3 linked regions of the Homo sapiens genome follow. The protein of the gene in region 3 interacts with the protein of the main gene of each other region in a pairwise test. Each region holds a gene or a part of one and is shown on either strand. Other genes may lie near its edges.

What was found.
Region 1: the proteins of HNRNPM (region 3) and LYST interact in a two-hybrid assay, tested with the Homo sapiens proteins (one study listed by BioGRID).
Region 2: the proteins of HNRNPM (region 3) and PRRC2A interact in a two-hybrid assay, tested with the Homo sapiens proteins (one study listed by BioGRID and IntAct).

The regions. Positions count from the first base shown.
Region 1 is NC_000001.11:235,860,267-235,864,016, reverse strand, and holds part of LYST (lysosomal-trafficking regulator), read left to right. Parts: intron 1-3,750. UniProt on the Homo sapiens protein: Adapter protein that regulates and/or fission of intracellular vesicles such as lysosomes. Might regulate trafficking of effectors involved in exocytosis.
Region 2 is NC_000006.12:31,623,662-31,627,411, forward strand, and holds part of PRRC2A (protein PRRC2A), read left to right. Parts: intron 1-70; coding exon 71-248; intron 249-599; coding exon 600-699; intron 700-788; coding exon 789-861; intron 862-1,509; coding exon 1,510-1,653; intron 1,654-1,798; coding exon 1,799-1,950; intron 1,951-2,130; coding exon 2,131-2,210; intron 2,211-2,358; coding exon 2,359-2,501; intron 2,502-3,110; coding exon 3,111-3,201; intron 3,202-3,320; coding exon 3,321-3,537; intron 3,538-3,750. UniProt on the Homo sapiens protein: May play a role in the regulation of pre-mRNA splicing.
Region 3 is NC_000019.10:8,447,837-8,451,586, reverse strand, and holds part of HNRNPM (heterogeneous nuclear ribonucleoprotein M), read right to left. Parts: intron 1-3,750. UniProt on the Homo sapiens protein: Pre-mRNA binding protein in vivo, binds avidly to poly(G) and poly(U) RNA homopolymers in vitro. Involved in splicing.

The sequences.
Region 1 (3,750 bases), on a different chromosome or scaffold from region 3:
ACATTACCTGGGGAATGGTGGAGGATGAGGAACCTGATCAGATATTTAGGATGATTAGATATCCAGGATGTTATGCTAAACAGACTTAGCAGGGTTCTTTGCTAATACTGGATTTTACAAGGAAGTGCACAGATGGGCCTCACAGAAAATTCAAAAGCCTGAGTAAGTTTGGCCAAGCAAAGAATTTTTGTCAAAGCTGAGATTATTAGTAGTAAACACAAGTGACTTTGTTTTGAAGACACTTTTTACGTTACCTTGACTATACCAGGGGGTTAAAAATTTCACCCATAAACTGCCAGCTTTGATTTCATGATTATTTTCTTCTTAATTCTTTTGGACCAACCTAGTCATTCTTTTCCCAATTGTAGTTTTATTTTTGTTTGATTGCACTCACATAGTGTGTTTGTTAGCTTCGGTTGTAGAGAGAGCCATATAGTCTGGAATTTCAGAGTACCTTTTTGGTCTGTTGCTGTATTTAACTTGAACACCTTCATCTGATTAATCTTTTCCTGAATTATCTGGTTGCCGGCTTAAGTTCAACATTTTTTTTTTTTTTAGACAGAGTCATTCTCTGGTTTCTCTTCAAATTGTATAAATCTTTCGCCTTTTACTAAAGATTTCCGTGGAGACAGAGTCTCGCTCTGTCACCCAGGCTGGAGTGTAGAGGCGAGATCTTGGTTCACTGCAACCTCCACCTCCCAGGTTCAGCCAATTCTCCTGCCTCAGCCTCCAGAGTAGCTGGGACTACAGGTGTGTGCCACCACACCCGGCTGATTTTTTGTGTTTTTAGCAGAGATGGGGTTTCACTGTGTTAGCCTGGATGATCTCAATCTCCTGACCTCATCATCTGCCCTCCTCGGCCCCCAACTGTGCCTGGATTACAGGCGTGAGCCACCGTGCTGGGCCAAGTTCAAGATTTTTTTTAAGCCCTAAAATGTTATCAAGTGTGGCTTTACTTGGCCATTTGCAAAATTACAAAGGAAATGACTCATTTTTAATACTTTGTAATGTCAAAAGACAAAATTACAACAAATTTAGCTTAAAGATCTTACTTCACCTTTGCCATTGTAGAATCAGGCAACACCTCATTTTATAAAATAGAACAAGTGTTCTCATGAGCCGAGCAGAAGTGGTTGGTTTTATGGTAGTCTCACTTTATCTTGAAGGGGTGTGTGTGTGTGTGTGTGTGTGTGTGTGTGTGTGTGTGTGTTTGTTTGTTTTGAGATGGAGACTTGCTGTGTTGCCCAGGCCAGAGTGCAGTGGGGTGATCTCAGCTTACTGCAAACTCCGGCTCCTAGGTTCAAGCGATTCTCCTGCCTCAGCCTCCTGAGTAGCTGGGACTACAGATGCCTGCCACCATGCCCGGCTAATTTTTGTAATTTTAGTAGACATGGGGTTTCACCGTGTTGCCCAGGCTGGTCTCGAACTGCTGACCTCAAGTGATCTGCCCATCTTGGCCTCCCAAAGTGCTGGGATTACAGGCATGAGCCACCGCACCCGGCCTTGGGGAGATATGTTCTAAGATCCCCAGTGGAAGCCTGAAATGGTGGATAGTACTGAATCCTATATACACTATAGGGCAGGATGAGATTTCATCATGCTACTCAGAACAGGGTGCAATTTGAAATTATGAATTATTTCTGGAATTTTCCATTTAATATTTTCAGACCACAGTTGACCTCAGGTAACTGAAACCTTGGAAAATGAATCTGCGGATAAAGGGATACTACCGTATACACTGAAAAGGGGTGAGGAAAACAGAAACAGAAAAGAAAAAGCAAATTGGTCATTTAAAGTTACTTTTCTTATTAGGGTTAAAGCAGATGGGACTTCCTTATGTCAGTCATATCATATCATATCAACTGGCCTGTTTGGGATTTGACTACTAACTCTGTCTCTCCTGATTGCTTGGAAGGTCAGATAAACAACTTAGTTTTGGCTTGGTGAAGTGGAACTTCAGCATGAGTGACTCCATTTTGATTTGATCTGTTGTCCCTAGTGCAGGAGGAACTCAGTCTAAACCAGTGACCTCCTATAAATTTCATTTAACACTGGTAAGTTAGTAATATGCAGGGATTAGCCTAATTGTTTTGTTTCAGTAAAGATGGCTTGAAATAAATGGGCCATCACATGTTAAATGAAGATCTTCTAAATCAAATTATATAGTATTTGTAGCAATAGAATTTGCCCTGTAAAACTTGGATAAAAAGTCTATCAGTCTCCGAAGCCAGGAGCCATGGCTTGTGCCTATAGTCCCAGTTACTTGGAAGACTGAGGTGGGAGGATCGCTTGAGCCTGGTTCGAGTCCAGCCTGGGCAACACAGCAACACGTCATCTCTAAACAGAACAAACAAACAAAACATATATATGTATATATCAGTCTTCTGGAATTTAAGGTCTACACTTTAAGAACCAGGAAATAAGCTAATTTTTTAAAATGGATTTTCAACCTAAATATATCTTAAAAATGTATAAAAATCTGTCAGATTAATAACTAATTATAAACTGATCTTGGAGTCTTTGAGGGCACTGTATTGTCTTTGATATTATTTTATTTTGCTGCTGTGTGTCACCAGTGTTTGGCTTTGTAACTCTTAATCCCCCAACTTTGTTTACAGTAATGAGAGAGGTCCAATACGTTTGGAAATGTTGAAGGCTTTCCAGGTCTAACTGCTGAAAAACAAAAATCTTACCTAATAACATGAAAGATTAATGCTTAAAATTGATTATCTTAATCAAGAAAGGAATCAAATAATTTTCAAAAGGCTAGTCATTGTTCCATTCAAATATGATTCTTTGAAATTAAAACATAAAATGGATGAGGACATAAGAGAGCTTTTCACTATTTTAACTGAATGGAAGAAATAAATGAACAATAGGGTAGAGTACTACACATATTAGAAATGTTTATAAAACTACTGCCACTCATCTTTAAAAAGCAATGTTTATATAACAGATTACTACTTAGCAATAACAAGGAATGAACTTTAGATCACACAACAACATGGATAAATCTCAAAATAATTACACAGCACGAAAAAAAGCCAGACCAAAAAGAAAAAAAAAGTACATACTGCATTGTTCCATCTGTAAAATTCTAGAAAATGCCTATTAATCTATAATGGAAGAAAGATCAATGCTGGCCTGGAGATAAGTTACAGAGGGAAGGGGCAGGAAAGAGGGAGAACAGTGGCATACTAGGAAACTTCAGGGGATACTAGATATGTTTACTATCTTGATTTGATGATGGTTTCATGGGTGTACACATATGTTGGAACATATCAAATTATGCACTTTAAATATGTGGTTTGTTACATGTCAGTTATACCTGTAAAGTTGTGTTTAAAAGTGGCTTGACCATGAAAAGACATGAAGAAATCTTTAGTGCATATCACTAAGTGAAAAAAGGCAAACTGAAAAGTCTGCATACTTTATGATTACAAGTGTATGGCATTCTGGGAAAGGCAAAACTATGGAGACAGTAAAAAGATTAGTGGTGGAGAGAAGGAGGGATGAATACGCAGAGCACAGAAGATTTTTAGGGCGGTGAAACTATTCTGAAGATACTACAGTGGTAGCTACATGTTATTATACATTTGTCGATACCCATAGAATATACCACATCAAGAGTGAATCCTAATGTAAACTGTGGACTTTGGGTGATAATGACCTGTCAGTGTAGGTTCATTGATTATAACAAATGTACCAGTTTAGGGGGGCTGTCCATAGTTGGGGAGGCTGTACATGTGT
Region 2 (3,750 bases), on a different chromosome or scaffold from region 3:
TCCCAGGATAGGAGGCCATCAGATCTCCCACATGAGGCATTTTCGACCCTCTCTCCGTCTTGTTCTCCAGTTGCCCCTCGCCATGGCCTGCAGAGTCTCGGGAAAGTTGCCATTGCCCGGCGTATGCCACCTCCAGCCAACCTTCCAAGCCTGAAAGCCGAGAACAAAGGCAATGACCCCAATGTCTCACTAGTGCCAAAAGACGGAACAGGATGGGCAAGCAAACAGGAGCAGTCCGACCCCAAGAGGTAGACAGAGGCTTGGGGGACCTAGAGTGATGGGTATTTTAACTTGAACTTCAGGGAGCATTGGGGCTTGGTTTAGTCCAGCCACGTCTGAGCCAGAGACGAAGAGGTCCCTTTCTTACCTATTGCAGGTTCCTTGTTAAATGACTAAGGAATGGTACTAAACTTTAGCTTTTTGTCTTGGAGAGAGAGCATGAAAAAATAGACAACAGCCTACAAAGGATGACAAAATTAATTTGTCCTTATATTTGTAAATGGTAGCAATGGGCATGATTTCAGTCCTGAGTCTCCACCAGTTGGAGAAGTCAGGGAGGCATCTCAGGTGTGAATAACCTTCCCATTCTGTCCCCTCAGTTCCGATGCCTCAACCGCTCAGCCGCCGGAATCGCAGCCACTGCCGGCTTCACAGACGCCTGCCTCCAACCAGCCGAAACGACCCCCAGCAGCCCCCGAGGTACCTGGAGAACTGGAGGGGTGGGGAGGAAGAATGGTTCATAGCTGCCCCACCCACATCATTTATCATCTTTCTGAACACTTCCCCAGAACACTCCTTTGGTTCCAAGCGGGGTAAAGTCCTGGGCACAAGCCAGCGTCACCCATGGAGCACATGGAGATGGTGAGTGCAGCACTTAATTGGGGAGCTGTGTCTGGGCACCATGGGATGCATGAACCCTGCACTGTATTTTCAGCCAAGTGACCTTGGTCCTCTTTGGCTAAATCAAGGACCACCCATATTCAGTTTCATGGAGGCACATGAGCAAGTTTAAGTCTCAGTCTTATATGATGGAGTGTAGTGGTGCCAGAACTGACCTCCTTGGGGAATAAGCAGTTATTCTGTAGGGGGGTGAGTTTGAAGGCGGGAAACCTGATGGTCTGGTACCTGTCAGAGCCTTCCACTTTTTTTTTTTTTGAGACGGAGTCTCATTCTGTCACCCAGGCTGGAGTGCAGTGGCGCAATCTCGGCTCACTGCAACCTCTGCCTCCTGGGTTCAAGCGATTTTCCTGCCTCAGCCTCCAGAGTAGCGGGACTACAGGCACACGCCAACACACCCAGCTAATTTTTTGTGTGTTTTTAGTAGAGATGGGGTTTCACATGTTGGCCAGGATGGTCTCGATCTCTTGACCTCGTGATCCGCCCGCCTCAGCCTCCCAGAGTGCTGGGATTACAGGCGTGAGCCACCGCGCCCAGCCAGAGTCTTCCACTTTTATAGCATGTCCTCAGGAAATGTCTTCTGTCTCCTGTTCTGCATCCCCATCCTAATAGGTGGAAGGGCATCAAGCCTACTGTCACGATTCTCTCGAGAGGAATTTCCGACCCTGCAGGCGGCTGGCGACCAGGACAAGGCTGCCAAGGAAAGGGAGTCTGCCGAACAGTCGTCTGGGCCCGGACCAAGCCTCCGCCCCCAAAGTGAGTGGCTGCCTTTTGGCCAAGACATTACCTATTGCATCTCAGAGCTAGGTGCTGGCTTATTCACCTTCCTCCCCATCACTTTCAGCTGTGTTCACTTGTCCTCCAATCATTGATACCTCTCTCTACCTTTTCCAAAATACAGATTCTACAACTTGGAGGGACGGAGGTGGGCGTGGCCCTGATGAGCTGGAGGGCCCGGACTCCAAACTTCATCATGGTCATGATCCCCGGGGTGGGCTACAGCCTTCAGGCCCACCCCAGTTCCCTCCCTACCGCGGAATGATGCCGCCTTTCGTGAGTCTTGGTGTCTTGTCTTGGAACGATTACACTGGAAGCTGGAGAGCTAGGAATCAGGACTTAGTCTTTGACCTATGAGATAGAAGGGAGGGTGGGAGGATGATTGATAGCAGGCTTAAGGAGCTAGAAGGGTATATGACTGTCCCTCTGAGCAGCTACTGTTGGACCCTTTTACAGATGTATCCCCCATATCTCCCGTTCCCTCCGCCCTATGGACCCCAGGGGCCTTACCGATACCCCACTCCTGATGGGCCCAGGTGAGCAATCCAGGTCTGGGTTTGTGGCTGGGGGCAGGGGAAGCTTATTGGGGGAGGAGATGGTTTTCTAGCCAGGAGGCTCAGTCTAGGATCAGTCTCGCATGTGGTTATACAACATGCCATATTTCATTTTCTTTTTTGTGTACAGCCGTTTTCCCCGTGTGGCGGGCCCCCGAGGCTCAGGGCCACCAATGCGCTTAGTAGAGCCTGTGGGTCGTCCCTCTATTCTCAAAGAGGATAATCTCAAAGAGTTTGATCAGTTGGATCAGGAGAATGATGATGGTTGGGCAGGTAAGTGGATATTAAGGGTCAAGAATTTGGATCTTGAAAGGCAAAACCTAATGAGGAAAAAAAAATACAGGGTTATGTGGGTGAAAGGCAGACATTGAAGTGTAGGAAGACCAGGCCCAATGGCTCACATCTGTAATCCCAGTGCTTTGGGAGTGTTAGGTGAGAGGATCGCTTGAAGCCAGGAGTTCAAGACCAGCCTGGGCAACACAGCAAGACCCCCCACCTCTACAAAAAAAAAAAAATTTTTTAGTTGGGTGTGGACTGTGCATCTGTGGTCCCAGCTACTCTGGAGGTTGTGGTGGGAGGATCAGTTGAGCCCAGGAGTTGGAGGTCACAGTGAGCTATGATCGTGCCACTGAACTCCATCCTGGGCAACAGAGCGAGACTTTTAAAAGGAAAAAAAAAAAAGAGTAGGGGAGGATGGATGGGGAATACCAAGTCCTTGCAAAGTGGTGAGAGGAGTAAGAATGACAAGACTTCATTGGTGGATCTAGACTTCGGAGGGAAGGATATTGGCATTGGTAGTCCATCTTGTTACATAGTTCCAGACTACCTCCCAAGATTGGAGGGCAGAATGCTTGGGTTACTAATACTCATATTTCCCCTCAGGGGCCCATGAAGAGGTTGACTACACTGAAAAGCTCAAGTTCAGCGATGAGGAAGATGGGCGAGACTCTGATGAGGAGGGTGCTGAGGGCCAGTGAGTTAGGGCCATCAGGGGAGAAGAGGAGGGGGTCTTGGTTTGTATTTTGGTAATATACTCTTAGAGGAGTATATTAGTTGCAGCTGATTTTAATTTCACTGTTGATCTGCTCACAGCAGGGATTCCCAATCAGCTTCTGGTGAGGAACGGCCCCCTGAAGCAGATGGCAAAAAGGGCAACTCCCCCAACAGCGAACCGCCCACTCCTAAGACGGCCTGGGCAGAAACCTCTCGGCCTCCAGAGACAGAGCCGGGACCTCCTGCCCCAAAGCCTCCCCTACCCCCACCTCACCGGGGCCCCGCCGGGAACTGGGGCCCCCCTGGGGACTACCCAGTGAGTGTCTCCAATAAGGGATTGAGAGGGTCAGCTGTGGGAAATTGGTGTCAGCTGAGTAATTGAAGCGGTTGTGATATAGAGGAAGGGGGGTGCTAAAAATGGGCTGTGTGAAGTGCCAGGCTGCAGAACATCCTGGGAAGCTTTTAAATATCTTTGGTAATAGGGGAGTCTGGGTAAGAAGTGAGAAACTGGGATGCTAATGAGGAAAGA
Region 3 (3,750 bases):
CAGCCGGGGGTAACAGCGGGAGACCCTGTCTCGGCAAGGGAAGGGGAAGGGGAAGGGGAGGGACATATTCAAGTTTAGATGATGTGATAGTATAAAAGTGATGTCCTGAAAAGCTCTTTTTTTAACATGTCCAATCCTATTTTCTCACTATCTTCAGGACAAAATTAGGGGAAGATTCTTCTCTAGTCCATGTATATGTATACGTACATATAAAAACTTAACTCTGCAAGTCTTTTTAACTTTTGGCTGGGCGCGGTGGCTCACACCTGTAATCCCAACACCTTGGGGGGCCGAGGCGGGCAGATCACCTGAGGTCAGGAGTTCAAGACCAGCCTGGCCAACATGGTGGAAACCTGTCTCTAATAAACATACAAAAATTAGGCCAGGCACGGTGGCTCACGTCTGTAATCCCAGCACTTTGGGAGGCCGAGGCAGGTGGATTATCTTAGGTCAGGAGTTTGAGACCAGCCTGGCCAACATGGTGAAACCCCGTCTCTACTAAAAATACAAAAATTAGCTGGGCGTGGTGGCAGGCGCCTGTAATCCCAGCTACTCGGGAGGCTGAGGCAGGAAAATTGCTTGAACACAGGAGGCGGGGGTTGCAGTGAGCCGAGATTATGCCATTGCACTCCAGCCTGGGCGACAAGAGTGAAACTCCGTCTCAAAAACAAAACAAAACAAAACCAAAAATTAGCCGGGCATGGTGGCGGGTGCCTGTAATCCTAGCTACTCGCTACTTGGGAGGCTGAGGCAGGAGAATCACTTGAACGGGAGGCGGAGGTTGCAGTGAAGTGAGATAGCGCCACTGCACTCCAGCCTGGGCAACAAGAGCAAAACTCCATCTCAAAAAAAAAAAAAATAATAATAATAATAATTAATTAAATTAAATTAAAAATACGATTAATGCCTGTAATCCCAGCACTTTGGGAGGCCAAGGTGGGCGGATCACTTGAGCTCAGGAGTTCAAGAACAGCCTGGGCAACATGGTATAACACCATCTCTACAAAATATTAGCTAGGCATGGTACCATGTGCCTGTGGTCCTATTTACTCAGAAGGCTGAGGTGGAAGGATCGCTTGAGCCCAGGAGCTGGAGTTGCAGTGAGTAGAGATCGTACACTGCACCCCAGCCTGAGGGACAAGAGTGAAACTCCATCTCAAAAAACAAAAAAACCCTAATAAAAAGATTGAGTGCCTAATCTGCAAAAGACCACCACCAAATAGTGACTGCCTACCCTCTCTTAAGGTCTCCATGCAGTTCCCATGCGTAACACTCACTACTTTTGGAGTTTCTAATCAAGGAAAGGGTGCAGTTTGAAATGGCAATCCCAATACCCTGAAATTGTGATCACATCTCCTGAGGGACAAGGACCCCTCTGCCCGTGTGAGAACCATCCCTTATATAAAGTGATTCTTCACAGAAATCCCTCAAGTCCTGCGCTGCTCTAATGCATGTAAGGTGTGGAGAGCACTATTCACAGCACCATTCCAGCTCCAAGGCCACCACTGAACTACCCACATGACTCAAGCTCTTTCTGTCTCTAGCGCTTTACCAGCAAAACCAGCGCAACCTGTATGCATGGTAGCTCAGAGGGACACTGTGACAATCAACAAAGAATGGCAAAACAAAAAGCAGCTCATCTAGGGAAGCAGTACTGCATGTGGCTAAGAGCTGGGGTCACCATGTCGTCACTAGGCCTCGGTCCTATGGAGGCTACTACCTACACGCTTACAGCTTTAAAAGAGACTCTTAGGCCGGGCGCGGTGGCTCACGCCTGTAATCCCAGCACTTTGGGAGGCCGAGGCGGGCGGATCACGAGGTCAGGAGATCGAGACCATCCCGGCTAAAACGGTGAAACCCCGTCTCTACTAAAAATACAAAAAATTAGCCGGGCGTAGTGGCGGGCGCCTGTAGTCCCAGCTACTTGGGAGGCTGAGGCAGGAGAATGGCGTGAACCCGGGAGGCGGAGCTTGCAGCGAGCCGAGATCCCGCCACTGCACTCCAGCCTGGGCGACAGAGCGAGACTCCGTCTCAAAAAAAAAAAAAAAAGAGACTCTTAGCACACAGTGAGGCAATGATGTATTTTTCTACCAATAATTTTATTGAGAAGGGTAGAGAGGGGGACTGATTCACTCCTAGCCTTCTACTGTTCAGGCTTTAAAACTAGCAAACCAGAGCCAAGGCTGAGAAAACCTAGGCATCATAATCATTACAGACTAGCAAAGGGACAATTTAGCTTTCAACCCTATGACTGCAAAATATGGTAATGGGGAAGTCCATTGGAGAACCCCCCCTCCCAAAAAAACAAGCAAGCTAATCTTTGCAGGCTAGTATCTCTTTCCCTAACCAGAATAAAATCAAAGAGCTGAGTGAAAGCAAAGGCCTGGCAGCATGCATTCAAATAATCCAAAACCCTGTCTTCTAATCTTGAGCTCACAATCTGACGTGTCTCCAAAATCCTTTTTGAATAAACAATCACTCTTTAAAGTACAGCAAACACTCAAATGCATTGTATAGAGAATCTGATTTAAATAAAACAATTCAAACGGCTGTTTACTGAGTGGTTACCAAGGTAGTATCATGAAAGCAGCAAGCTGCCTGGGAGTCAGGAGGGCCTCCCCTGGAGTCTTTAGGTCAGGTTCCTGAACCTGGGTTTAAGTGTTTAAAACGAAAGTTTTCTTGATTGTCAAATGGAGTCAACTCTAACAGTACCTCCTCAGGAATCTACCCTAAATATATATTTTTATTTTTATAAATAACCAATCCATCTGTTTCTTATTCACCCACAAAATTACTCAGGAAGGGGCCAGGTGTGGTAGCTCACGCCTATAATCCCAGCACTTTGGGAGGCCAAGACGGGCGGATAACGACGTCAGGAGATCGAGACCATCCTGGCTAACAGAGTGAAACCCCATCTCTACTAAAAAAAAATATTAAAAAAATTAGCCAGGCATGGTGGCGGGCGCCTGTAGTCCCAGCTACTCGTGAGGCTGAGGCAGGAGAATGGCGTGAACCCGGGAAGCGGTTCACGGAGCTTGCAGTGAGCTGAGATCGCGCCACTGCACTCCAGCCTGGGCAACAGAGCGAGACTCCATCTCAAAAAAAAAAAAAAATTACTCAGGAAGGGGAGCAGGTTAAGTCATTTATTTTATATATGATACTACATTTAAAAAAATTTTAAAAACCTATACATTCCCCTAAAATGAACTTTTTTTTCCCTGACTATACCCTAACTCTGAATCTTTGCTGACTTTAATTGGAACAGACTTCTCATCAAAATTAAGCAAATCCTATTCTCACACCCAGGAGAGAAGTAACTGCAAAACAAGATTTCCAACCTGGGTTCCCAGATCAAGCTTGCTAGCTCACTGCATTTGTGGTCTACTGCACACTCCACTCCTGGTAGAGAAAGAATTCCAAAGAACCAAGTTTCTATTTTTCTCCTGTCTCTCAAAGGCTTTCAAGATAAAAATCCAAATTCACTGCCCATCAGCTGGCTGCCAGTGCTCCAACCTTAAAACTCTATAGCAACTTCAGTGTTCTTGTTTGTTTGTTTGTTTGAAGAAGGAGTATCGCTCTGTCGCCCAGGCTGGAGTGCAGTGGCCCAATCTCGGCTCACTGCAAGCTCTGCCTCCCAGGTTCACGCCATTCTCCTGCCTCAGCCTCCCCAGTGGCTGAGACTACAGGAGCCCGGCACCACGCCCGGCTAATTTTTTGTATTTTTAGTAGAGACGGGGTTTCACCGTGTTA